7 linked regions of the Homo sapiens genome follow. The protein of the gene in region 1 purifies or fractionates together with the protein of each later gene. This does not show direct contact. Each region holds a gene or a part of one and is shown in the gene's direction. Other genes may lie near its edges. The genes, in order: MAEA, SYT1, EML3, POTEI, PIP4K2A, NAXD and GRAMD1B.

Region 1 (3,500 bases):
GACTCACCCGCAGACCCACCTGGCCCCACCCTCTTGCTGGCTCTTGTCCTCGGCATTTGTCCCGCACCTCGTTCACCTTCTCTCAGATGCTGCCCTGGGTGGAGCGGCACCCTCCCACCCATGCCTTCTCCCCACTGCTGCACAGCCTCCCTGCTTGTGTGTGTGTGTGGTGTCCGTCCTGCCCTCCAGGAGGGGAGTGGCGAGCAGCTGCCCAGTGGGCAGGGTGAGCGAGTGAGTCCTCGTGTCCTGGAGGCCCTCATCTGCCCAGACCTGCACAGCACTGTTGCTCTCGGCACCGCTGGGGTATGGCGTCTCGGTTCACAAGCGTGAATGTGATGTGTCACAGCTGTGCCATGAGTTGATCTGCCAGATGGCAAAGTGCACTGATCCTCTGCGGTGACCGGGGCTGGTGCCCCTGGGTGCCCTGCAGTCTTGTTGAGTTTCCGAAGTCTCCAGGTCATGACTCGCAGCCACTCCAGTGTGCACCCAACATTCTCATCGCTGGACGGGGTCGTCTGTGATGCCTCTGCCGTGCTGCCCACTGGGCTGCTGTGGCCCCCATCTGGTGCCATTTTTCCTCCACCTGGGTGTCAGGGAAGGGCATTCTCACCTGCACCTGCCCAGGCTCATGTGACGGACAGTGGGCCAGCACATGTCCGCTCCGGTGCCCTGTCCCACATGCCTTTCCCACCCACCCGCCTCCCTGGCCCCGTGTGCCCGGCTTCCCCCAATGCACAGGCCCTCGCTCCGTGCTGCCCACATGTCCTGGCTGCCTGGGGCGGCCCCCCGTGTGTTCATAGATGACCTAGCCATCCTCTCCTAAACGCCCAGCACACTGTCCTTGGGACCCATGGGGTGTGACCAAGCAACCTGGCGGTGGCTGCTGAAGCATGAGCTGTGGGTGCCCCTGGCCCCAGGGAATGTGCGCTGTGTTGGGGGAGAGAGACGTGAAGTGAAAGAAGGGGGTCCTGTGGTGGGCACAGGCCACGCGTTCCACAGAAGTGCGTAGAGCAGGGTGGATATGGGAGTGCTGATGATTCTAAGGCCAGTTGGAGTAGGCCTCAGCAGGGTGAGACGGGCTACACTCAAGGTGTTGGGGTGCCCTGAGCATGTCTGTCCAAAAGAGGGCCTGGAGCTGCTGTGTGGAAGAAGGCGGGCGTGTGGAGCCCATGAGGACTGGGTTGCGGGGGAGGGGTTCTTTCTGCTGAGATGCTCCGGAGGGCGTTGAGCTGAGGAATCGCTTTTGACCACAGGTGACCATGGCACTAGGAAGCCCTGGGGAAGGTGCTGCTGTGGCCGAGGGGGAGCTGCCAGGTTGTGGAAATGTAAACCCCGGCTGCGCTGGTCAGACCTGGACTTCCTGTAGGGGGCGCCATGGAATTCCCACGTGGGACCCCAGTTTCCTACCTGTGCACCAAAATTCCTGTGCACCAAAATTGGAGACGTGACAAACTTAGGAAAATAACCTCATGCTCTGGATTGGAGCAAGGTCCCAGACAATACAGGACAGGAAGCTGCTGCCAAGGGAAGGCCACCCAGGAACAGGACAGGAAGCTGCTGCCCAGGGAAGGCCACACAGGAACAGGACAGGAAGCCTGCTGCCGAGGGAAGGCTGCCCAGGAGGGGCAGAACAGAGTCCTCAGTGTGGCTGGTGCTGTGCGCCTGCCTGTGCTGCCTTAGGCTGGACGCAGGGCTCTCAACCCGTAATCCTAGCACTCTGGGAGGCTGAGGCGAGCGGATCTGTTGAGCCCAGGAGTTTGAGACCAGCCTGGGCAGCAAAGTGAGAACCCTTCTCTACAAATTTTTTTTCAAATTAGCTGGGAGTGTTGGTGGGTGCCTGGGGTCCCAGCTACTCTGGAGGCTGCAGTGGGAGGATCACTTGAGCCCAGGAGGTGGAGGCTGCAGTGAGCCAAGATTGCACCACTGCACTCCAGCCTGGGCAACAGGACAACACCCTGTCTCAAAACAAACAAAAGTCAGCATGAGCATTTCGTGTGAGACAGAAAACCAGTTCACTTAGATGGTTTCTAGTTTCAGTTGACGTACGAGCCTGCTGCCAGCTGGCCTCACATCTTTCATGTGACTCTCACAACCGGAGACCCGGACATTGGAGAAACCCTCAGTAAGAGAGATCCAACTGGGTTCAGACCCCGAGGCTGTGTTGACGGGACATGAGGCAGGATATAGACCAGGAGCCACCTCCTGAAATTTAGAGCAAAACTACAAAACAAGGCCTTTGGGAGACCAGGGTGGGAGCATCACTTGAGCCCAGGAATTTGAGGCAACAGTGAGCCATGATCTCACCACTGTATTCCATCCAGTCTGGACAAGAGAGCGAGACCCTGTCTCAAAAAAAAAAAAATGGTTTTTCAAGTTGCAAAACAAAGTAAGACTTTGTGGGAGACCCAACATTCGCCTGCCCTGAAGGGGCTTCAGAAAAGAAATCATCAAAGCAAACATGCAAGAAAACACTATGAAGGGGCTCCAGAAAAGAATCATCAAAGCAAACATGCAAGAAAACGCTATGAAGGGGCTTCAGAAAAGAATCATCAAAGCAAACATTCAAGAAAACGCTATGAAGGGGCTTCAGAAAAGAATCATCAAAGCAAACATGCAAGAAAACGCTATGAAGGGGCTCCAGAAAAGAAATCATCAAAGCAAACATGCAAGGAAACGCTATGAAGGGGCTTCAGAAAAGAAATCATCAAAGCAAACATGCAAGAAAACGCTATGAAGGGGCTTCAGAAAAGAATCATCAAAGCAAACATGCAAGAAAACACTATGAAGGGGCTTCAGAAATCATCAGAACAAACGTGCAAGAAAACACTATGAAGGGGCTTCAGAAAAGAAATCAAAGCAAACGTGCAAGAAAACTCTATGACGGGGCTTCAGAAAAGAAATCAAAGCAAACGTGCAAGAAAATGCTATGAAGGGGCTTCAGAAAAGAAATCATCAAAGCAAACATGCAAGAAAATGCTATGAAGGGGCTTCAGAAAAGAATCATCAACATGCAGGAAAACGCTGTGAAGGGGCTTTAGAAAGAAATTATCAAAGCAAATATGCAAGAAAACGCTATGAAGGGGCTTCAGAAAAGAAATCATCAAAGCAAACATGCAAGAAAACGCTATGAAGGGGCTTCAGAAAAGAAATCATCAAAGCAAACCTGCAAGAAAATGCTATGAAGGGGCTTCAGAAAAGAAATCAAAGCAAACGTGCAAGAAAACGCTATGGAGGGGCATCAGAAAAGAAATAATCAAAGCAAACGTGCAAGAAGACACTATGAAGGGGTTTCAGAAAAGAAATCATCAACATGAACATGCAAGAAGACGCTATGAAGGGGCTTCAGAAAAGAAATCATCAAAGCGAACATGCAAGAAAACGCTATGAAGGGGCTTCAGAAAAGAAATCATCAAAGCAAACATGCAAGAGGCCGGGCACGGTGGCTCACGCCTGTAATCCCAGCACTCTGGGAGGCCAAGGTGGGCAGATCACGAGTTCAG
Region 2 (3,500 bases), on another chromosome or scaffold:
TTACTAATCATGTCTTTATAATCCGATGCCTATTTTAGCTGTTTTTTGACCATCTGTCTGTGTTTTGTTTACCTACAATCTAGCACTCTTATTGCCACTGTTGTATCATGATTCCACAAAAAAAAAAAAAGATATTGAAGCATTAAAATAGAAACAACATAATCATTCAGGTTATTGGGCCATGTTAAAAGTTGAGCCACCTAGCCAAAATGCACTTAAGTACACGGTGGGTCACAATTAAAATGGTTATGCATTTTTTTTAAGAGGGGGAATTGCTTTTTTACTCTACTAGCTAAAAAGGCATGAACTCAGATTTTTCAGGCTGAGATGTAAAAACCTATGGTGTTACTGCATTTACAAAATAGCATATACCTTGAATAACAGTAAGAGTCTGCTTTGTTACCTATATGGATCTAAATCAGTCTGTTGACACAAAATCTCTAATGGCAGAGTATCTATGATAGTCTACTCACACCTCTTTTTTTCTTCGCAAAAATATTAACCATACCATAATACCTTAATATTCATAATGAGGCTTAAGAATGCATCAGTAAGAAAACAGACTTAAAGAAATGTAATAGTTCTGTGGTGTTTGGAAAAAATAAAAAACACAGTTACTCACCATTAAAAAACCTCACCTCTAATCTCCCTTGCTTTCTATGAAGCTGAAATTACATTTCTTTTACTCCGTGTCCTATATTTAAACACAGAATCTCATAGATAATAATCATTCTACTGTAAGTTAAAATAAATGTAGTCTGCACACCAGTGAAGGTCAAATATAATAGAAACTAGAAGATCTTATTTTTTATCTCAAAATGCTACCCAATTTCTAAGAAATTTCTACTCAGCTAGCCTGAGGCTTTGATAAAGAATAAAAGTTTCCCACTTTGTAATTACAAACTTGTGATTGCTTAACAATGCATTTTCACTTACAAATCATGCTCTGGAAAGAAAAACAATGCACAAGAGCTTTTAGCAACTGGAAAGTTATTTGATTACAACTCTTTTGCAAAAATGAACTCCATATTTAACTGCAATCAGCAACCTTTTAAAAGCCTCTTTTGTGCTTAAAACCAGGCTTCCCAGAGCCTGCATCAGTCATAATTGGGTTTCTGAAGTCTACATAGCTCAGTTCATTTGCCTTCTGTGTTCAGATTCATAAGAGAATCAGAGTTTTATTAAAAATAAATAGGAAGAGGGAGAAATCCCAATATGCAGCATTGTGAACAAATCGATCTTTTCCAAAATGTCCACTGATATTTATGTATGCTGTATTCTGTCATTTATTTCAGCTGCTGGTAGGGATCATTCAGGCTGCCGAACTGCCCGCCTTGGACATGGGGGGCACATCTGATCCTTACGTGAAAGTGTTTCTGCTACCTGATAAGAAGAAGAAATTTGAGACAAAAGTCCACCGAAAAACCCTTAATCCTGTCTTCAATGAGCAATTTACTTTCAAGGTATTTGTTAACATTTATTTATAACCTTTCCTTTGTTGTTTTACTTAAAAGACTGATCTCATCCTGACACATACATAGACATGCACATGAATGCTTGTTCAGGCACTCACAATAATTCCAGTCAGAATATGCAAAATTCTTATCTTCACTACAGTCAACATTCGATATTGCCTTTCAGCGTGTTCAGAGTAGGATTCGGTTCAGTCATTTCAGAATGGAATGGACTAGAACATGACTAGGATGTCATAGTCACATCTAAAAAGTGAGATCCCTCCCTGAAATAAAGCCAAAGGAATGAAATCATTATTTTTCTGAATTTCAAAGTTTGTGAAAATAAGTACATCTGTTACAATCCCAGGATTAAGTAAGCTGTGTCCCAATGCTTAAATGGTACAAATAGACATGACTCTTGTAACAAAATTGTGTGTGTAGAGGGCAATTTGAGCACTTCAAAGTCATTCTTCTTAACTAATCAATAAAAGGAATATGAACATATTTTTTATTGCATTTCTAGCCTTCTTCCTTTACTCTAGGTTCTGCCCTGATGTTCTTCATCTTGTTGAGGCACCTCAGTTGACAAACAACAGAGAGATTCCAGCCATATAATATCTCATCAGGAAAACATGTCCTGCAGGTCTCCAGGATCTTCGTGGATCTTGGCTTGAAATCATTCATTAAAAACAATTCTTTTGGTGGATATCTTTAACGTGCGAAAAAAACTTTTTAATGCATTACTTAGAACAATATGTTTCTGAAAAATGAAATATCTGTGAATATGCCAGCAGGCTAATTCAAAATCACCACGTCCATCAGCCAGGCTTAGCATATGCCTTGTGTTGGCAAACATTCTGGGATGAAATAAATTGAAAATGAGGGCATGAGTCATTTTCTCAAACCTTGTTTTCAATTATGTAAAGGGGAAGTGTCTTTCTATTCACTCTAAAATTTCTGAGTTTTCAAGACAAAGGTCCCTCATGTATTGTCAGTAATCTTATTTAAAATCTGGTTTTTCTGTACCTAAGCAGTGAATTTAAAGTAGCAGTAAAGACATTCTGGAAATACTCAGTTCATGAAGAGTATCTGCTCATGAAGCTTAATCACTATAGTCAACATACTACGAAACGTAAAATGGAAATAAAATTTTAAAAATATTGTAATAGTAATCACAGTTGTTTTATTCATCTATTTATTAACCTTAACTTAGGTCAGCAGTTTCTGACCAAAACTTAGTAAGGAAATTCTTAAATTATATGAGCTAATGTATTGGGGCTTTGTTTTGTATTGCATTACCTACATTATTATTTCTTTAAAAAATGCTAATAATTTTATTAGTAATTTCTATAAAACCAAGTATAATTATTGAAATTTTTGAATTCTCTATACATTTTTATCAAGTTTCATTTTATTTCAGAAAGGTTGATCAAACTATACATAAATCCAAAGTATAATATATTCTGCTATATTAAAAAATACTTCAATTTTTCTAGAGAACTGGTTAGACATTGTAGATTACTCATCTTGAAATGCCAAGAGGCAATATGATACAGGAATGGAAGTATAAAAGACTTTAAAGAAGCCTGGCTTTACAATGGATTTAAATCACTTAACAGGAACTCAACATGCCCCAAATTAATTCATCTTCTTTTCCCCCAAAACAGTTATCTGAAGGAGCTACTAATCATTCAAACAATAAATATTTTTAAGTGCTTCTTCTGTGCTAGGTGTTTTACATATATTCATTCATCCCTAAAATAGCCCCATGAAGCAGCCATTATTACAGTATTATCACAATTTAATAGATGAATAAACTTATGTTTAATCACGTGCCCCAGGCCCTTTAGTTGGAAAGTCCAAATCTGGTACAAGGTCTGTCTGACCCCAAGTCCAGGTTTTTGACTGTTGCTCTTTGAGTACAATCACTAGAAAGTCTAGAGAGATTTTAGATATACAATAACATTTTCAAGGGTTTATCCTTACTCTAAAAAATTTTGTTTCTTTCTTTGAGAGTCAGCTCTTTGGAAGGGTTTATTTTCCATT
Region 3 (3,500 bases), on another chromosome or scaffold:
TCTTTTCTTGTGTCCTGCCCCTCCCCGCTTAGGTCTTGGGACCTGACCCCAATCCCTGTGCTTTCTCTCTTCCCAACAGCCGTGGGGGAAAAGACCCCCTCTCCAGCCCTGGGGGCCCTGGATCTCGGAGGAGCAATTACAATTTGGGTATGTAAAGAGGGACAGAGAGGAAAACTTGGATGGCAGGGTTAGGATTTGGGCTGTAGCCCCAGGAGCTATTTTGGGTAGGTGTGGTGGGTAGGGTTCTGCTCTGTCTTTCCTGGAAGGGGGTAGTTGACACCACCCCTTTTCTCTGTAGAAGGCATCTCAGTGAAGATGTTCCTTCGAGGGCGCCCCATTACCATGTACATCCCGTCTGGCATCCGCAGCCTTGAGGAGCTGCCGAGTGGCCCACCGCCAGAGACCCTCAGCCTTGACTGGGTGTATCCTGCCCCTTCCAGTCCCATGAGAACCACCTTTCTCACCTTGGGACCCCTCTTACCTTTACAGTTTCCTCCTGGGTCTGTGGGGACAAGGAGCCTTCTAGATCCTCTCCTACCATCATTCTGCTCTAGGCCCTGCCAGCCAGAAGCTCTGTCTTTCTCCCCTCTTCCTCCTCCTGCCCTTGATCTAACCCTTTCCTTGACCGTGATCTCCACCCCAGTTATGGGTACAGGGGTCGTGACTCCCGCTCTAATCTGTTTGTGTTGCGCTCTGGGGAGGTGGTCTACTTTATCGCCTGTGTGGTGGTGCTGTACCGGCCTGGAGGAGGCCCAGGGGGTCCTGGAGGTGGCGGCCAGAGACATTACCGGGGGCACACAGACTGCGTTCGATGGTGAGGAGTCCGGGGCTGGTGGGCTTGGCAGGAAGAGGGTCTGGGGGGATGGAGAAGCAGGAGAAAAGAGTTGCCTTGCTGCTCTGCAAGCTTGGAGAAGGTGTCTTGGATGGTCTTGAGAGACCCTTTCCCTAGAGTGTCTTCCCCCTGCCTTAGCCTTGCTGTTCACCCTGATGGTGTTCGGGTAGCCTCGGGACAGACAGCTGGAGTGGATAAGGATGGAAAGGTAAGGCCAAAGTCAGGGAGCAGGCAGACATGCTGGAATTGCACTCCAATTTTGCTTCACACTTGTGACTCTTCCTCCACCAGCCCCTGCAGCCTGTGGTTCACATCTGGGACTCAGAGACGCTGTTGAAACTGCAGGAGATTGGACTGGGGGCCTTCGAGCGGGGTGTTGGGGCCCTGGCCTTTTCAGCTGCGGTGAGCTGGCCCTGAAGCCTCTAGACCCCCATTCTTGCCTAGGAACCCCACTCTTGCATGTCACCAGGAAGCCTTGGAAGTTCTGGCCTTCCTGAACCCCACCCAGCTGGTTCTCTTGAGAAAGGGCCATGTGTGTCAACTTTTTCTGCCCTCTCCATCTGTGATGGTACCTCTTAACCTAATGACCATGAACCCCTGGACCTCCAGGGTTCACTCTGCACCTCCTATGTGTCACCCTTCTTCAGGATCAGGGTGCCTTTCTTTGTGTGGTGGATGATTCCAATGAGCACATGCTGTCGGTGTGGGACTGCAGCCGGGGAATGAAGCTGGCTGAGATCAAGGTGAGGAGTCCATGTGGCTTGGAGGGGCTCTGAGGTTGGGGGTGGGAGTGGTGGAGTGCAGGGAGCTCCAGACTCACCCATACATTTCCTTCCTTTTTGGCTGGGTCACATGGGGCAAATCTCCTAGCTTCTCTGACCCTTAGTTTCTTCATTTGTGACATGGGTTCTGACCTCATGAGGCATAATGTGTTAGGTATTAGGGTGATTAATTATGATTGACAGGAAATAGTGCTCTTAGGGGACCAGGGTTTTGAAAGAAGGGTTGTCCTGGGGTTTCTGGACCTCTGCCAGCCAGCTGTCATGATGCAAATTGAGGAGAGTCAAGTAGAATGAAGGTACCCAGGGCTTGGGGTGGCTGAATCTAGTGTCTTCCCTTCAGAGTACAAATGACTCAGTCCTGGCCGTTGGCTTCAACCCTCGTGACAGCAGCTGCATCGTCACCAGTGGGAAATCTCACGTCCACTTCTGGAATTGGAGTGGTGGAGTAGGGGTTCCTGGGAATGGGACCCTTACCCGGAAACAGGGTGTCTTTGGGGTGAGGCATGGATAAGTGGAAGGTGATGGGGAGGGCAGAGTGGAAGAGGAAGCACTGGGCTGAGTACTATGGACCCTGAGGTTCCCTAACCCCCACCTGCCCCTGTGACCTTTTTTTTTTTTTCTTTTGAGACGGAGTCTTGCTCTTGTCACCCAGGCCAGAGTGCAATGGCAAGATCTCGGCTCACTGCAACGTCTGCCTCCTGGGTTCGAGCAATTCTCCTGCCTCAGCCTCCCGGAGTAGCTGGGATTACAGATGCGCGCCGGCTGATTTTTGTATTTTTAATAGAGATACGGTTTCATCATGTTGGCCATCATGCCCGTTTTTTTTTTGTTTTTTTTGTTTTTGAGACAGTGCCTTGCTCTATCACCCAGGCTGGAGTGCAGTGCGGGATTTCACCATATTGGCCAGGCTGGTCACAAACTCCTGGCCTCAGGTGACCCGCCCGCCTTGGCCTCCCAAAGTGCTGGGATTACAGGCATGAGCCACTGCACCTGGCCTGCCCTGCGACTTTTAATCTTTGCCCTTCCCTTTGACCTCTACTGTCTGCTCTCCCCTCCCACTAGAAATACAAGAAACCCAAGTTTATCCCTTGCTTTGTGTTCCTTCCGGATGGAGACATTCTCACTGGAGACTCAGAGGGGAACATTCTCACCTGGGGGCGGAGCCCTTCAGATTCCAAGACCCCAGGCAGGGGTGGCGCCAAAGGTATGTGGCTGGGAGGGGCATCTGGGAAGTGTAGTACTCCAGAGGTTCTGTGGGAACAGAGGAGAGGGTTTCCCATTCCCATCTTTTTTTTTTTTTTTTTTGAGATGAGGTCTTACTCTGTTGCCCAGGCTGGATTGCAGTGGCGCGATCTTGGTTCACTGCAACCTCTGCCTTCCAGGTTCAAGTGATCCTCCTTCCTCAGTCTCCCAAGTAGCTGGAAGTACAGGCACACGCCACCACGCCCAGCTAATTTTTGTATTTTTAGTAGAGATGGGGTTTTGCCATGTTGGCCAGGCTGGTCTCGAATTCCTGACCTCAGGTGATCCGCCCGCCTTGGCCTCCCAAAGTGCTGGGATTACAGGCGTGAGCCACGGCGCCCAGCCAGGTTTCCCACCTTTTTACCTTGAGAGTTGATAGTTCTCTTGGGGGCTAGTCTAGAAGCGTGTGGGCAGCACAGCAAAGGAGAAACGGCTGGAGCTTTGTGTTTGCCAGATCTCAGGTTCAGATTCCAGTTTTGCTATTAGTTGCCTTGCCTTTAGGAAGTTACCTCATTTCTGTGAGTCTCAGTTGTCCTGTTTGTAAAATGGGGAGAATAACAGATGTGTTGGCAGTATGAGGATGAGACATAGTAGTCAGTGCATGCAATGGCTGGGAGTTCTTACTGTATTGCGACAGCCAAGCT
Region 4 (3,500 bases), on another chromosome or scaffold:
CACGACTGTTAATTGTATTCATATGCACTATAACTTTACAAAGCATCTTCCCAAACCAAATATTTACTGATTTAGTATAATTTGTATGACTTTATTATAGAACTGACTTTCCAAGTGTTCATGAGAATTGTTTAGTATTTGCTACATTGTATCATCTCAGCTGTGTCCACATGAGCTATCTGTCACCTTGTCTTAATGAATAATTGTTCACTAGGAATATTGGTTTTGGCATTGAAATGATCTATATCTAAATGCAGATAGGACCCGGGACCACTTTTGAACATTAATGTCCAAGCATCTTAAAATTACACATAAGGCTTTCATAATCTGACTTCTGCCCCACTCTCCATCTTTAGCCCTTTTCCCTGTGTGCACTGTCTCTGGCATTACTGAGCTGCTGGCAATGCCCTACTCACTCATCCTTCTATTGTAGGCAAATACTTTCACTCTTTCAGGCCTCGCTCCCGCTCTTGCTGCTGCATGGTATGCCGTCACCCTTTCCTGCCCTCTACCCCTTTTAATCTGGCTAGTCTCAATATTTAAGTCTCTGCTTGGGCATGTGTTCTAGAAAAGCCATCTCTGACAGGCTTTATTTTAATTCTTTTTAAACCCTAATGCCTAGCATGTATTTAGCAGGACTCAATAAAATATTTCTGAGTAAAACAAAGACTGTTTTTACAAAGATGATGTGCAAGACTCTCCCCTGCAGTCTTGGAGCAGAGGGGACAGACATGTGGAGGAATAATGTACAGTTTAGGTGGTCAAGATGCAGTAGAAAAATCAGTAAAGTACTAAGGCAGCCTCAAGGAAGGAGGTACCTGTTTATTTGGGGAAAGACATGCAAAATCAAGGAAGACTTCACATAGCATTGTTTCAAAAGATGAAAATAAGGCCAGGTGTGGTGGCTCACACCTGTAATCCCAGCACTTTCAGAGGGGATCACGAGGTCAGGAGATCGAGACCATCCTGTCCAATGGTGAAACCCCATCTCTACTAAAAATACAAAAATCAGCTGGGTGTGGTGGTGCTTGCCTGTAATCACAGTTACTCAGGAGACTGAAGCAGGAGAATCACTTGAACCAGGGAGGCGGAGGTTGCAGTGAGCTGATCATGCCACTGCATTCCAGCCTGGTGACAGAGGAAGACCCTGGTTCATAAAAAAAAAAAAAGAAAAAAGAAAAAAAGAAAATAAATTTGTCAGAATAGTGGAGGGAAACATTTTAGATATTAGGAAGACGTTGTACACTAATAAAGGTGTCAGCAGTGATTTTGGAAATCATTTATAAGGTACTATTAGGAAGTGGAGAACAGTACACTGTGTCACCTTATATGTTTCTACTGTATTTTAAAGCTGTGTTTCTGGTGGTTTTGTTCATGGATGTTGGGTGGATGAATTTGTGAGGGAATTTTTGACATGTTTGTTTGTCTTCAATCTGGTGACATCTGGTATCTCCCCAAGTGGGTTTTTGAAGTTTTTGAGAATTATTTCTTAAATGACAATTTCACAAAAGATGAAACACTCAATTTATGAAATAAAATGAAATGTCTCAAATCCGTTTTTAAAAGGCAATAGTTTTTAACTGTTCTAAGTGGTTGATTTTAACTGAATATATGGATTTTTCAACAGAACAAGACTTAAAGCTGACATCAGAGGAAGAGTCACAAAGGCTTAAAGGCAGTGAAAATGGCCAGCCAGAGGCATGGAAACTTTTAAATTTAAACTTTTGTTTAATGTTGTGTGTTTTTTGCCTTAATAATAGTAGATAGTCCAAATGAAATTACCTTTCAGACTAGGCTTTGAGAATCAGTAGATTGTTTTTTTAAGAATCTTTTGGCCAGGCAAGGTGGCTCACGCCTGTAATCCCAGCACTTTGAGAGGCTGAGGCAGGTGGATCACGAGGTCTGGAGATCGAGACCATCCTGGCTAACATGGTGAAACCCCGTCTCTAGTAAAAATACAAAAACTTAGCTGGGCGTGGTGGCGGGTGCCTGTAGTCCCAGCTACTCGGGAGGCTGAGGCAGGAGAATGGCATGAACCCAGGAGAGGGAGCTTGCAGTGAGCCGACATCCACCACTACACTCCAGCCTGGGTGACAGAGCAAGACTCCATCTGAAAAAAATATATATATATATTTTAATAGGTTCTTAAAATTTATTGTAATAAAATCAGCAACCTTCTTAACAGAAGAATCAATAGATTCTAATTTAATATTTGATATTTAACTTCAACATAACCCACTATAAAATTTAAAATACTCTTATTTTAAAATATTCTTATCTGCCTTCTTGATTAGCTTATAGCTAATCTCTCCTTTTGGAATAGAGGCAAAAACAAATTTCAGAACTTTGTTTGTTCTTTTATTTTTACAACACCCTAACATGATAAAGAAAGTAACATCAATGATTGAATCATATTATTAAGCAATAGGAATTATGAACAATGTAACACTGATTCCCTGAGCTGGATTCATGGTTAAAGAGTAATCATGGCCTGTGATTGAAAATCCACAGTTTTATATTGTCAGTCACTGATACCAAGGTTAAGGACATATCCTGCCTTGTGGTCTCTCGTTGACCTCAGTGTTTCTGTTCAGGGAGGGAACCAGGTCATAAAAGCAACCCAACTGCCTATTACAAGAACCATATCTTGCAGAATGGGACCTTTGGTGTTAGTGCACAAACACAATAACATTCTAATTTATTTCAGTTGCAGAAAATCAGTACAGATTAAAAAATTCTATCTGCTGTCATTAGTACACATTAGAATATATTAGAACTGGACTTACGCAGATAATCTGGATACATAACACTATCATATGACAGTATATAATTTCAATTAAAATGTGAGAATTTGCATTTCTTTCTGTTTGGTGTTGATTTCGGCTCCTAATAGTTTAAAGGGTGCCTACAATCCAGTTAGGAATCTTTTAAAAAAGCACTTCAGTGCACTGTAGGGGCTCACTAGTTAGGGTTTCATGAGGTAAACTCTTTTCAAGTGAGGAAGATTTTGGAACACTACAAATCATCTGCTGATTCATTTTTGGTAGATTTAACACATAACAAATTAAGTTTAGTCCAAACAAATAGTGAGAAAGTTAAGTTTGCTGGTTCATGTTTTTCTTCTCCCTTTGTCTAAGGTGAATTATTTTTCACATGTTAGAAGCCAGTGATGTGGCAGTAGCTAAACATAGATTAAAAAGTTAATTCTTAATTTTAATTATTATTTATTTAAACAGTTTAATTTTAATTACTTTCTAATTTTTATTGTCCATACTTGATTACTTCAGAATAAAATTATTTTAAAAACATGCACTCCAAAAGAGGAAATGTCACAGAAATACAACAAGCAAATTAACCTTCTGTTTTTACATCTGCAGAAAAGATCTCAAGAACCAGAAATAAATAAGGATGGTGATAGAGAGGTATACCTTTATATTCAAATGTTTGTGTTGAATTAGATTTTTACATTATGTTGTTTAACAAAGTGTAGTAAATGTAGG
Region 5 (3,500 bases), on another chromosome or scaffold:
GCATCCTTTGACTTTACAAAAATCACGATTTGAAATGTTTTCTCTGGGTTAGTTATTGTAACCTAACATAGGGATTTGACATATCCCCAGTGTTACATAAAATAAGTGTGGGATCAAAATAAGTCTATTGACACCTCCCAGGGGCTTTAACAGTATAAAGACTTCCTTCTGTTCCACTGCTACAAAATTGTTATCTTATTGGTGAGTTCTTTATTCAGAAAAGTCTCCTTTATCCAACATCTATACTTTTTCTTTTTATAAACAGAATATTTTAAATATAATTTGTAGGGTCTTAATGATTGGGAATCACATTATTAATATAAATTATTTAAAGGGCACTAAGTAGAAGTCAGGAGACATAGATCCTAACCTGTTAGGAACTGCCTCTTGGATGATCTCTGAACTCAGCTTCTGCACCTGCATTTCATTCATTCATTCATTTATTCATGTATTCACTCTTGACCTTATTCCAGAAAGGATTTAAGGTGGCCTTCAAAGAAGTTGGAAATACAAGCTAGAATAAATGAAAAAAAGAAAAGGAAGAGGCAGAAAGATAAAGGCACAAAATGGAGCCTGGAATGAGCGTAGATATTCATGCCAAGATGACCAGCATGCTTGATACTTTGAGTCTGTTGCCAAGGAGAAATGTAAGTGGTCTTGGTACTAAGATGCAACAGGGTTGACTCTAAGGAGTTCCCCACAGAGCGGACACAGGGACATCTGACCTGATAAAACAACATCCTTGCCACAAGCTGAGAAACATACAAGAATGTTAGAGAACTTAAAAAAAAATTGTCCGTATAGGCTGCTAATTATCAGTATAGGCCATGTATAAATACAGCCACAGTTGCAGCACCGTTTTGCTAATTTGTCCATTTTTAAATTACATTTAAACGAAAGCAAATTAAGAACAAGGAAATGTATAGGTGACACAAACGTTGACCATTAAAGGTGGACATGCCACTCATATACATCTCAGCAAAATCTCACATAGAAGAGGTTTTTAAAAATACAGCAGCAGTGAAGAGTAACAGTGTTAATTACATGATCAGAGAATTCCACAGAAACCTCATAAAAGGTCTCAACATTCACACAGCTTATTTGATACTGATCTATTCGGGGTGACCCCTGCTAGGCTCACTGAGGGCAGGTCTGGGACCCTGCTCAGGTTGGCAGGTGTTCATGAAGGAAGATGCAGTCCGCCGAGTCAAACATCACACCCGCAGCAATTAGCAAAGGCCACACCAGTGTGTAGTTTACATTTAGTAAATGCTGTTCTACAGAGAAAGGCTATAATGCACACCGGCTGCCTAGCCCTCTCCCATTCTGGCTTCTGTTTGAATGTTCTTCAGGCTGTTCTTCTTGTATGCCACTTCCAGACGAGATTTTGATGAATATTACTGGGTGGTGGGCTCAGCCTGGCATGTCCTCATGTGATTCTGTGTGACCGGACACAGGCCTGTCATTGGTAAACCCAGGGAGGCCTGTCAAGCTTTGTGTTTCTATCCCTGTGGTTTGAGATGCTCAGAGGTATTTGAGGTATATGTCAGGCCTTCATTCCTACTTTCTGTGGGCCTAGAGTACTTTTAGGGTTTGTATCTAAGAAACTTTCTCTCTCTAGCTTCAGTAGTGATCATCATTTCTTCTGTTTCTTCTTGCTTGTTGTTGCTTTTGCCTTGGAACTCTCTGGGCTTCTGAACCTTCCGAATCTAGACAAGTAATGCAGATCGTTCAGGTGCATATCAGTTGATGAGAGGCTCTCATAGAGGGTTTCTCCCGTGGAGTGAATTGCATGGACTTTCTGACAACTTTGGTTACCCAACAGCCCTTTTTTTTTTCTTTTCCTTTGTTGTTTTTTGTTTTAAGGAAATGCAGCCACAGTTGGAATTATATTCTGGAGGGTTAAAATTGCCCAAGGCCAGCCTCTGGAGAAGTAGAACATGGCTAGTTATTTGAATATTTGAATAAATTCTTCCTAGGTTTAATTTTCTGACACACTGACCTTCCCAGCAATCTGGGATGGCAGGTGGTTCAAGAGCAAGGACTTGGAGCCAGCCAGCCACCTTCTGGTCCCAGCCATGCCCCTGGCCAATGGCATGACCTTGGGCAATTTACTTATACTTTTGACACCTCTTGGTCTATAATATTTGGATAATAGTACCCTCTTCATTTGGGTGTTGTGCTAATTAGGTGAATTCATATTATAACATGCTCAGAGCAGTGTCTAGTATATAAGAAGTGCTAAATGGGCCAGGCGCAGTGGCTCACGTCTGTAATCCCAGCACTTTGGGAGGCCGAGGTGGGTGGATCACCTGAGGTCAGGGGTTCAAGACCAGCCTGACCAACATGGTGAAACCTCATCTCTACTAAAAATACAAAAATTAGCCAGGCATGATGGCACGTGCCTGTAGTCCCAGCTACTCGGGAGGCTGAGGCATGAGAATCGCTTGAACCCAGGAGGTGGAGGTTGCAGTGAGCCGAGGTTGTGCCACTGCACTCCAGCCTGGGTAACAGAACGAGACTCCGTTTCGAAAAAAAGAAAAAGAAGTGCTAAATGAGTGACTGAATAAGATTTTTAATTAAATATCGTTCTTGTATTTAATTTCCTACACCTCAGTGTTGAAATCATTCTCATGTGGCATTCAGTCCTTAACTCTTTTAATCCACTAGGGGGCCTGGTTTCTGGTAGACTGTGGCACTGATGCAGAATTACGAAGACTTCAGCCGTGAGGAGTTAGATTTTTCCCCCAAGTTCCAGTATCTTGCTCTATTCTTTATTTCCTGCCCAAATTCTACCCTAGCTTTCACTCTGTGCAAAGAAAGAAGAGCATCATCTCTCAGACCAATGGAGAATTCATATTAAGCACAGCAAACTTTCATAAATTTTGTTTACTTCATTTGATTTTCTCTTGTAGTTGGGAAAATAATGTTTCGCTATAAATATCCTTTTCACATTTCTGTTAGGCTGTAAGAAACTCGGATCCTATAAATGATGATTATCAGTTGATTAACTAAACAATGTTAGAACATTCAAAAAGGAAAAAATGGTAAAAAACCTATTTGCCTACTTGAATATCTTTTTATCTTAAATCGACTGAATTTTTTTTTTCCCCGCACTGACGTGAATTCATTGGGAGCTTTGGTATCATGTAGCTTCAACTTGAATTAAAATTGAAAAGTATTGACTGGACACAGTGGCTCATGCCTGTAACCCCAGTGCTTTGGGAGGCCGAGGTGGACGGATCACTTGAGGCCAGGAGTTCAAGACCAGCCTAGCCAACACAGTGAAATCCGGTCTCTACTAAAACTACAAAAAATTAGCTGGGGGTGTATGCCTGTAGTCCCAGCTGCTCAGGAGGCTAAGGCATGAGAATCCCTTGAACTCAGGAGGCAGAAGTTGCAGGGAGCCAAGATGGCATCACTGCACTCCAGCCTGGGTGAGATTCTGTCTCAAAAAAAAAAAAAAAAATTGAGAGGCACTGTTGGTAACATACTTCCCT
Region 6 (3,500 bases), on another chromosome or scaffold:
TGAGAGCCCTCAGGTCATCTAGCGTGGGCTGCCGCCTCCTCGTCAGCTTCCAGCTCGTGTCTGGTGCGGAGCAGAGGCTTCCTACTTCGTCGACGTTCCTGAATGAGGTCATCATCTGGTGTAGGCCTGAAAACAACCCGATTAGGTAGATTCCTATTCATAGCCCCATTCTTCTGATGACAGATTGAGTCCTGGCAAGGATTCAAGACGCCCGTGGGATCTGGTAGCAAAGAAACTGCAGAGATGGTTTTTTAAAAACGACTTTATTTAGATGATTTACCTACCATACCCCTCACCCATTTAAAGTGAACTATGCGGTGGCTTCAAGTATATTCATAGTTGTGCAACCATCACCATGATCAACCTTAGAATATGTTTATTGCCTCCAGAAGCAGCCCATCCCCGTTAGCATCTGCTCCCTGTTCCCCAGTCTCCCCAGTTCCTGGCAGCCACTCAGCTAGTATGCTTTCTGTCTCTCTGGATTCGCCTGTTCAGGACATTTCATATGAATGGAATTATGCAACGTGTGCTATTTAGTGATTAGTTATGTCACTCTGCATAATTTTATATTTAGAGTTACCTGTGTTGTAGCATGTATCAGTATTCCATTCCTTTTTATATCTAATATTTCACTGTATGCATACACCACCTTTGGTTTATCTGTTGATTAATTTATGGAAAATTGGTTTCCACTTTTTGTGTGGATGTGTTTTCACTCTCCTGGGTGTTAAGTGTTTCACATTTTGAGGCCCTGCCACTGTTTCCCATAGCGGCTGCACTATTTTCCATTCCCTCTAGCAGTGTGCGAGGGCTCTGATTCTCCACATCGTTCCCAGCACTTGTTACTGTTGTTGTCTACTTAGCAGCCACTCTAGTGGGCGTGGAGCGACCTCACTGTGGTTTGGTTTGCGTTTTCCTGGCAGCTGATGCTGTTGAGCATCTTTGCATGTGCTCATTGGCTGTTTGGGTATCTTTTTTTTTGTTTTTGTTTTGTTTTGTTTTTGAGACATATTCTCACTCTGTCACCCAGGCTGGAGTATAATGGCGTGATCTTGGCTCACTGCAATCTCCACCTCCTGGGTTTAAGTGATTCCTTTGCCTTGGCCTCCAAGTAGCTTGGACTACAGGCGCCCACCATCACACCCAGCTAATTTTTGTATTTTTAGTAGAGATGGGGTTTCACCATGTTGGCCAGGCTGGTCTCGAACTCCTGACCTTAGGTATCCGCCCGCCTCAGCCTCCCAAAGTGCTGGGGTTACAGGCGTGAGCTACCATGCCTGGCCTCTTTGGGTATCTTCTTTGGAGAAGTGTCTATTCATACCCTTTCCCCACTTTGAAAACTGTTTTTTGCCTTTTTTTTATTGACTTTTAGGAGTTCTTCATATACGTTCTAGACACAGGTTCCTTATCAGAGAGACGATTTGCCGATATCCTCTCATTCTGTAGGTTGTCTTTTCACTTCGATGGTTTTGTTTACAGCACAGTTTTTAATTTTGAAGTCCAATTTAGCTGTTTTTTCTTTTGTCCCTTGTGCTGTTGGTGTCTTATCTCAGAAGCTTCTGCCTAACCCAAGGTTTACTCCTACATGTTAAGAGCCTTATTGTTTTGGTTGTTACTTTAGCTCTGCGGTGCATGTCGAGCTGATGCTGGTGTGGTAGGAGGAGGCTCCAGCGTCAGTCTTTTGCTTGTGGGTGTCCAGCTGTTGCAGCACCATGTGCTGGAGAGACTCCTTTTTCCTCCCAACTTGTCATCCTCCCTGACAATCCGTTGACCCTAAATGTGAAGGCTTATTTCTGGACTGTTGTTTCTGTTTTGTTGATCTGTACAGCTGTCCTGCAACTGCCCGGTCTTGACTGCTGTGGCTGTGTAGGAAGCCTTGACGTCGAAAGCCCGAGTCCTCCAAATTCGCTCTTTTTAAGGTTGTTTTGGCTCTCCTGGGTCCCATGCATTCCAGTTTTGGATCAGCTTGCTGATTTGTGGAATAGGCAGCCGCAACTTTGGTAGGGATGATGTTGAAACTGAAGATCAGTTGGGGGAATGTCTAACAACATTAAGTCTTCTGGTTCCTGGGCTGGCTTTGAACCCACGTTGTCTGAATCTGGAGCGCAGGCTCTTGACCAATGCACCTGTCCTCACACTGTGCTCTTTGCACACTCGTTAACAGTGTGTCCTGGAGACTTTTTCATGGAAGGATATGTGGATACTCATTATTTTTAACAGCCACATCAGAATTTATGGATCTACTACAGTGTATTTAGTTCATTTACACTGTTTTCAGCTTTTTCTTCATGTTAACATCAGTGGTGTCCTGAATCTATGTGTTTTGTGCACTCTTTTGGGTGAAGTTCCATTGCTGAATCAGAGTAAGGACGTTTAAATTTTTGAGAGATGCCCCCAGATTTCTCCCTAGTGTACCAAGGTTTGCTTTCCCATGGGTGGGGACACCCTTCTGCGCTGGGTGCTCTGATGCTGCAAACCTTTCTAGGAGACCCATGTAACATTGCATTTTCCAGGGTTTGAATATTCACTTTTGAGTACTATTTGCAAATACATTAAAAGAAAACACAGAAACAGATGAAAATGTCAGATTGTTGCCAAATACTGCAACATGAAATCAGAAACTGATCTAAAATCTGAATTAGCAAAAGCCTGCCAGTTTTAACAGTAAAGCCAAACTCAGGGCAAGCAGACAAAGAATTTTTATTGTTAATAAAGGGAATAATAAACTTCCATGAAGTCTCAGGTACCTGCCTCCCTGGAAGGGGCTTCAGGACACACTGCTAATGCTCGGACCAGTGTCAGAGCCAAATACACACTTTCCTATGGCTGGAATGTGCGTCATAAACAGGCTGAAATGAGCACTTTGTTAGGCGAGCAGCTAATGCTTTGTCAGCTTTCAAATTTCATTTAATATACACGGCTTTAGTTTTCAATACTTTAAATTATTCTTAGCATGTATTTTTATGTCCAGAATTGGTGGGTTCTTGGTCTCACTGACTTCAAGAATGAAGCCGTGGACCCTCGCGGTGAGTGTTACAGCTCTTAAGGTGGCGCGTCTGGAGTCTGTTCCTTCTGATGTTCAGATGTGTTCGGAGTTTCTTCCTTCTGGTGGGTTCGTGGTCTCTGTCTCAGGAGTGAGGCTACAGACCTTCGCGGTGAGTGTTACAGCTCTTAAGGCAGCGCGTCTGGAGTTGTTCGTTCCTCCCGGTGGGCTCGTGGTCTCGCTGGCTTCAGGAGTGAAGCTGCAGATCTTCGCGGTGACTGTTACAGCTCATAAAAGCAGTGTGGACCCAAAGAGTGAGCAGTAGCAAGATTTATTGCAAAGAGCGAAAGAACAAAGTTTCCACAGCGTGGAAGGGGACCCGAGCGGGTTACCAATGCTGGCTCGGGCAGCCTGCTTTTATTCTCTTATCCGGCCCCGCCCACATCCTGCTGATTGGTAGAGCCGAGTGGCCTGTTTTGTCAGGGCACTGATTGGTGTGTTTACAATCCCTGAGCTA
Region 7 (3,500 bases), on another chromosome or scaffold:
AGGAGGCTACAGCGGCATCCCTGAAGTGTTCCTCGACGAGCACCCACCTTCATCTCAAGGAGGTTTTCTTTCTAGGTGTATAATGCAGGGAAGTTTTCTAGTTATCATCAAGAATTTGGGCAATGCCACTTAAGGAGCGCTCATGTCCAGAGTCCTGTCTTCGTCACCGTTTGGGAAAGGAAATGCATGCTCAGAACCCAGATATTTGATTCAGAGGCTTCAAATAGGATGGGCACCCATGGAAAAAAAATAGCTTAAGACAAATAATCCTTTCAGTTAGGTAGGGATAACTCTAAGGAGGCTGCCTAGGAAAGGTGAGTTTGCAGCCAGGAATTTTACATGGGGGGCAGGGAGGGGTGGGGTGGGATATGAAGGAGATTTCAGAAGAGCAATGGGGTAGGCAGGGGATTTTTGGTTAGAGGAAGATCATACACAAAGCAAAGAAGCAGGAAATCTCATAGATATGGATGGATAGAAAGGTCTGAGATTCTTAGAATAGTTGGCCATCTTGAACCACTGAGGGTAATGTGGACTCACTGGTGTCTCCTCTCAGATACTGTGAAGAGATCCCTGTGGAAGAGAATGAAGTGAATGACAGCTCATCCAAGAGCAGCATAGAGACCAAGCCAGATGCCAGTCCACAGCTGCCCAAGAAATCCATCACCAACAGCACACTAACATCCACAGGGAGCAGTGAGGCCCCCGTCTCGGTATGGGCAGTCAGCCTTTGACTTCTACCCCCAGTCCTGTGGCCAGCGTTTCCTAGCATAGTTCACTGGGAACCCAATCTGGGGAGCAGGTAGAGAGGAGATTGGTTACATTGTTGTCAGTTTCTTCAAGGAGGCATTCTGGAGCAGATGGGCTCTCCGTATTCTAGTGGCATAGCCCGGGGTCCAGAGCTGGGGCTAGGTGCCTGGGGTACAAGACTGGGTTTGACTTCTGAGCAGATGAAAACCATTTCAAGCCCACTGTGCTGGGCTGCTGCTGATCAGCCCTTCTGGTAGAGAACAATTCCAGGTATTTTTTCACTGCCTTGATCTGACGTCAAAGTCATGCATGAATATAGAACTATAGAACAATTAATTGTTTATCCACTCATTTGGTTGATATTTGTTGAGTATACGTATTGTGGCTTATTTCTCCACTGTGGTAGACTTTATGGAAGCCATAAAAATGTGTAAGAGAACCTCTGTCCTGTGGGACTCTGTTAATAGAGGAGGTAGAACCTTGATGAGGAAAGAGGGTCAGGGCATGTGCTGGCAGGCAGAAGAACAGGTAGGGTTCTTCAGGAAAGGACTCCCTCAAAGAGCCTTGTATTTCAGTAGGCTATGGATCAGACCACCTGCCTTCAGAATGAAAACATTATTCATTGGATACCTGGTCTTTATTTTCCATCTCTGAGGTTATCTTTAAAATGTAAAGAGTTGTATCGATTCCCTTCCAGGGCTAATGAGAGAATGAGTTTTAAAAAATGCTTATGAAGCCTTTCGAGCTTCTTAGGATAAACAGGTACTACCTGGAGGCAGGCTGACCTTGTTGCAGGATGGTGCAGGTGCGGCTCCAGGAAAGGGCCTGGGCCTGTGGGGACCAGCTCTGTGCATTTGGGGAGCTTGTTGTGCTGTTGGAATGGCGAGCGTGAGAAGTGCAGTAGTCCTTGTACTGTGTTTGCCCATCCTCTGTGGCAGCTCTGGGGAAGGGCTTTGGAGCCTGACTCTGACTTCGCTCCTGAGCAGCTGAGCTGGGAGTATGAGAGCTGCCAAGGCTGCATCCCTAATCTCCCTTTGGAGAATAGATCCAGACCAGGTTTCCCTGGTGGGTGACTCCTCTGTCTTGGCTCCAGTTTGATGGGCTGCCCCTGGAGGAAGAGGCGCTGGAGGGAGACGGGTCCCTGGAAAAGGAGCTCGCCATTGACAACATCATGGGGGAGAAGATTGAGATGATCGCTCCTGTGAACTCCCCTTCACTGGACTTCAATGACAATGAGGACATCCCCACTGAGCTCAGTGACTCTTCCGACACACACGATGAAGGTGGGCATTTGAAAATGGGTCTGGAGTGGCCCTTGCTCTGTTTTGAAGGCTAAAAGGAGATCTCTATGTGGGGACTGTAGTTAGTCTCTAGGTTCCTGGTGGAGAGATGGGAGCAGAGCTTCCTTAACAAAAGGTACCTGTTATTAGTTTACATCCCTGTTTTCAGTCATTTGCTGTAGGAGCCTCCCATAGATAATGCTTTGTTCTGTCATTTAGTCTTGTCACTAAATGTTCCCCCTATTGACATTGGCTTGCCTTGCGACCCTGACCCTCACAGACACGCAAGTCTAGGCAATGTTTATAAGCCACAAGGAAGGTGCCAGTCAGCTGCTCCCTGGAAATAATTAGATTTTAACAGAAACGTCCTCAAGATAGCTGCGAAACTTGTTAATGCAATTTTTGCTGCATGGGGTATTTAGGCCCAGCTAGAAGAAAAGGTGTTGCTGGGTCAAATAGGGTTTGGAGACTCCCTTGTTTCTCTAATTTTTGTAAGCAGGTAGCTTCTAACTTCATGCCTGCATAGGATTAGCTTCTAGAACCTCCCTTGGGAACATGCTGCTGCTTACCTTCCATGGAGAGAAGCCAAATTCTCAGCATTCATGAAATCAATTGATGGATTTCCTCCATTGAGTGAGTGGTCTGTTATGACTGGTGAGCATATGAGCACGGTGCTCACTTGTGGATCTGTGGACACCTCTCCCAGGGGCCACCTGCAGTGGTTTTCTAACTTTTGGTTGGTTTACCCACCCCCATCTAGAGTCCAGGGTTGGCACAAGTGACTGCATGGGTTAGATACTGCCTAACTCCAGGGTGCCTTTCACATAAACTAAGGTGTGAATACCCGCTGCGCTGCACTTGTGCAGTACCCATCTGTGCAGTCATAGGACTTGACCCCTACAGGGTACTTCAGAGTTCTCTGGTTTCCTCAGGGTCCTAGGGGTGCCAGAAATGGCAGCCTCCTCCTGAGATCACATACCCACCCATGCAGGTGCAGTAATTAGGGACTGAGGGGTGCCAAGGGTTCGGGGGGGAGCACTGAGGCTTTAGCAGCTCTCCTGTATCCTCATTTGCATCCTCCTGTAGCAGCTGGAAAATTCAGATTACAGGTGAAATTCCCTGGCTGGCAATCTTCTGTATATGGACACAGTGATGTGCCAGAAGGGCTTTGCATCCCTGAGACTGAAGGAAGCTCCATTTTTGGAGCCCTCCCACACCTTGCTCTGTGTGCCTCTCATTCTGATTTGAATTCTTATTTTGCTATATGATGAAGCTGTAATCCTAAGTTTAAAAAGGGGAGTAGGTATTGACATCATGGTAGAAATAGGCTGTCTTATGGAACTGTAGTTAGGGATCACAGCCTATTGGACCAGCCCCAGCCTTAGCAGCAGTTCTGTACACTGATTCTTCCAGATTAGTCTACGTTCCCTCGAACAGACCTATGCCATGGGTTACAACTACAATTTGTTGTCG

The links.
Region 2: the proteins of MAEA (region 1) and SYT1 purify together in Homo sapiens (co-immunoprecipitation; one large-scale study listed by IntAct). This does not show direct contact.
Region 3: the proteins of MAEA (region 1) and EML3 purify together in Homo sapiens (co-immunoprecipitation; one large-scale study listed by IntAct). This does not show direct contact.
Region 4: the proteins of MAEA (region 1) and POTEI purify together in Homo sapiens (affinity purification with mass spectrometry; one large-scale study listed by BioGRID and IntAct). This does not show direct contact.
Region 5: the proteins of MAEA (region 1) and PIP4K2A purify together in Homo sapiens (co-immunoprecipitation; one large-scale study listed by IntAct). This does not show direct contact.
Region 6: the proteins of MAEA (region 1) and NAXD purify together in Homo sapiens (co-immunoprecipitation; one large-scale study listed by IntAct). This does not show direct contact.
Region 7: the proteins of MAEA (region 1) and GRAMD1B purify together in Homo sapiens (co-immunoprecipitation; one large-scale study listed by IntAct). This does not show direct contact.

What each region holds. Positions count from the first base shown.
Region 1 is NC_000004.12:1,317,391-1,320,890, forward strand, and holds part of MAEA (E3 ubiquitin-protein transferase MAEA), read left to right. Parts: intron 1-3,500.
Region 2 is NC_000012.12:79,294,774-79,298,273, forward strand, and holds part of SYT1 (synaptotagmin-1), read left to right. Parts: intron 1-1,295; coding exon 1,296-1,463; intron 1,464-3,500. UniProt on the Homo sapiens protein: Calcium sensor that participates in triggering neurotransmitter release at the synapse. May have a regulatory role in the membrane interactions during trafficking of synaptic vesicles at the active zone of the synapse.
Region 3 is NC_000011.10:62,606,276-62,609,775, reverse strand, and holds part of EML3 (echinoderm microtubule-associated protein-like 3), read left to right. Parts: intron 1-79; coding exon 80-147; intron 148-298; coding exon 299-422; intron 423-643; coding exon 644-814; intron 815-970; coding exon 971-1,040; intron 1,041-1,123; coding exon 1,124-1,234; intron 1,235-1,479; coding exon 1,480-1,575; intron 1,576-1,954; coding exon 1,955-2,110; intron 2,111-2,676; coding exon 2,677-2,818; intron 2,819-3,500. UniProt on the Homo sapiens protein: Regulates mitotic spindle assembly, microtubule (MT)-kinetochore attachment and chromosome separation via recruitment of HAUS augmin-like complex and TUBG1 to the existing MTs and promoting MT-based MT nucleation.
Region 4 is NC_000002.12:130,474,829-130,478,328, reverse strand, and holds part of POTEI (POTE ankyrin domain family member I), read left to right. Parts: intron 1-1,627; coding exon 1,628-1,698; intron 1,699-3,377; coding exon 3,378-3,422; intron 3,423-3,500.
Region 5 is NC_000010.11:22,585,579-22,589,078, reverse strand, and holds part of PIP4K2A (phosphatidylinositol 5-phosphate 4-kinase type-2 alpha), read left to right. Parts: intron 1-3,500. UniProt on the Homo sapiens protein: Catalyzes the phosphorylation of phosphatidylinositol 5-phosphate (PtdIns5P) on the fourth hydroxyl of the myo-inositol ring, to form phosphatidylinositol 4,5-bisphosphate (PtdIns(4,5)P2). Has both ATP- and GTP-dependent kinase activities.
Region 6 is NC_000013.11:110,629,045-110,632,544, forward strand, and holds part of NAXD (ATP-dependent (S)-NAD(P)H-hydrate dehydratase), read left to right. Parts: intron 1-3,500. UniProt on the Homo sapiens protein: Catalyzes the dehydration of the S-form of NAD(P)HX at the expense of ATP, which is converted to ADP.
Region 7 is NC_000011.10:123,604,769-123,608,268, forward strand, and holds part of GRAMD1B (protein Aster-B), read left to right. Parts: intron 1-553; coding exon 554-710; intron 711-1,840; coding exon 1,841-2,030; intron 2,031-3,500. UniProt on the Homo sapiens protein: Cholesterol transporter that mediates non-vesicular transport of cholesterol from the plasma membrane (PM) to the endoplasmic reticulum (ER).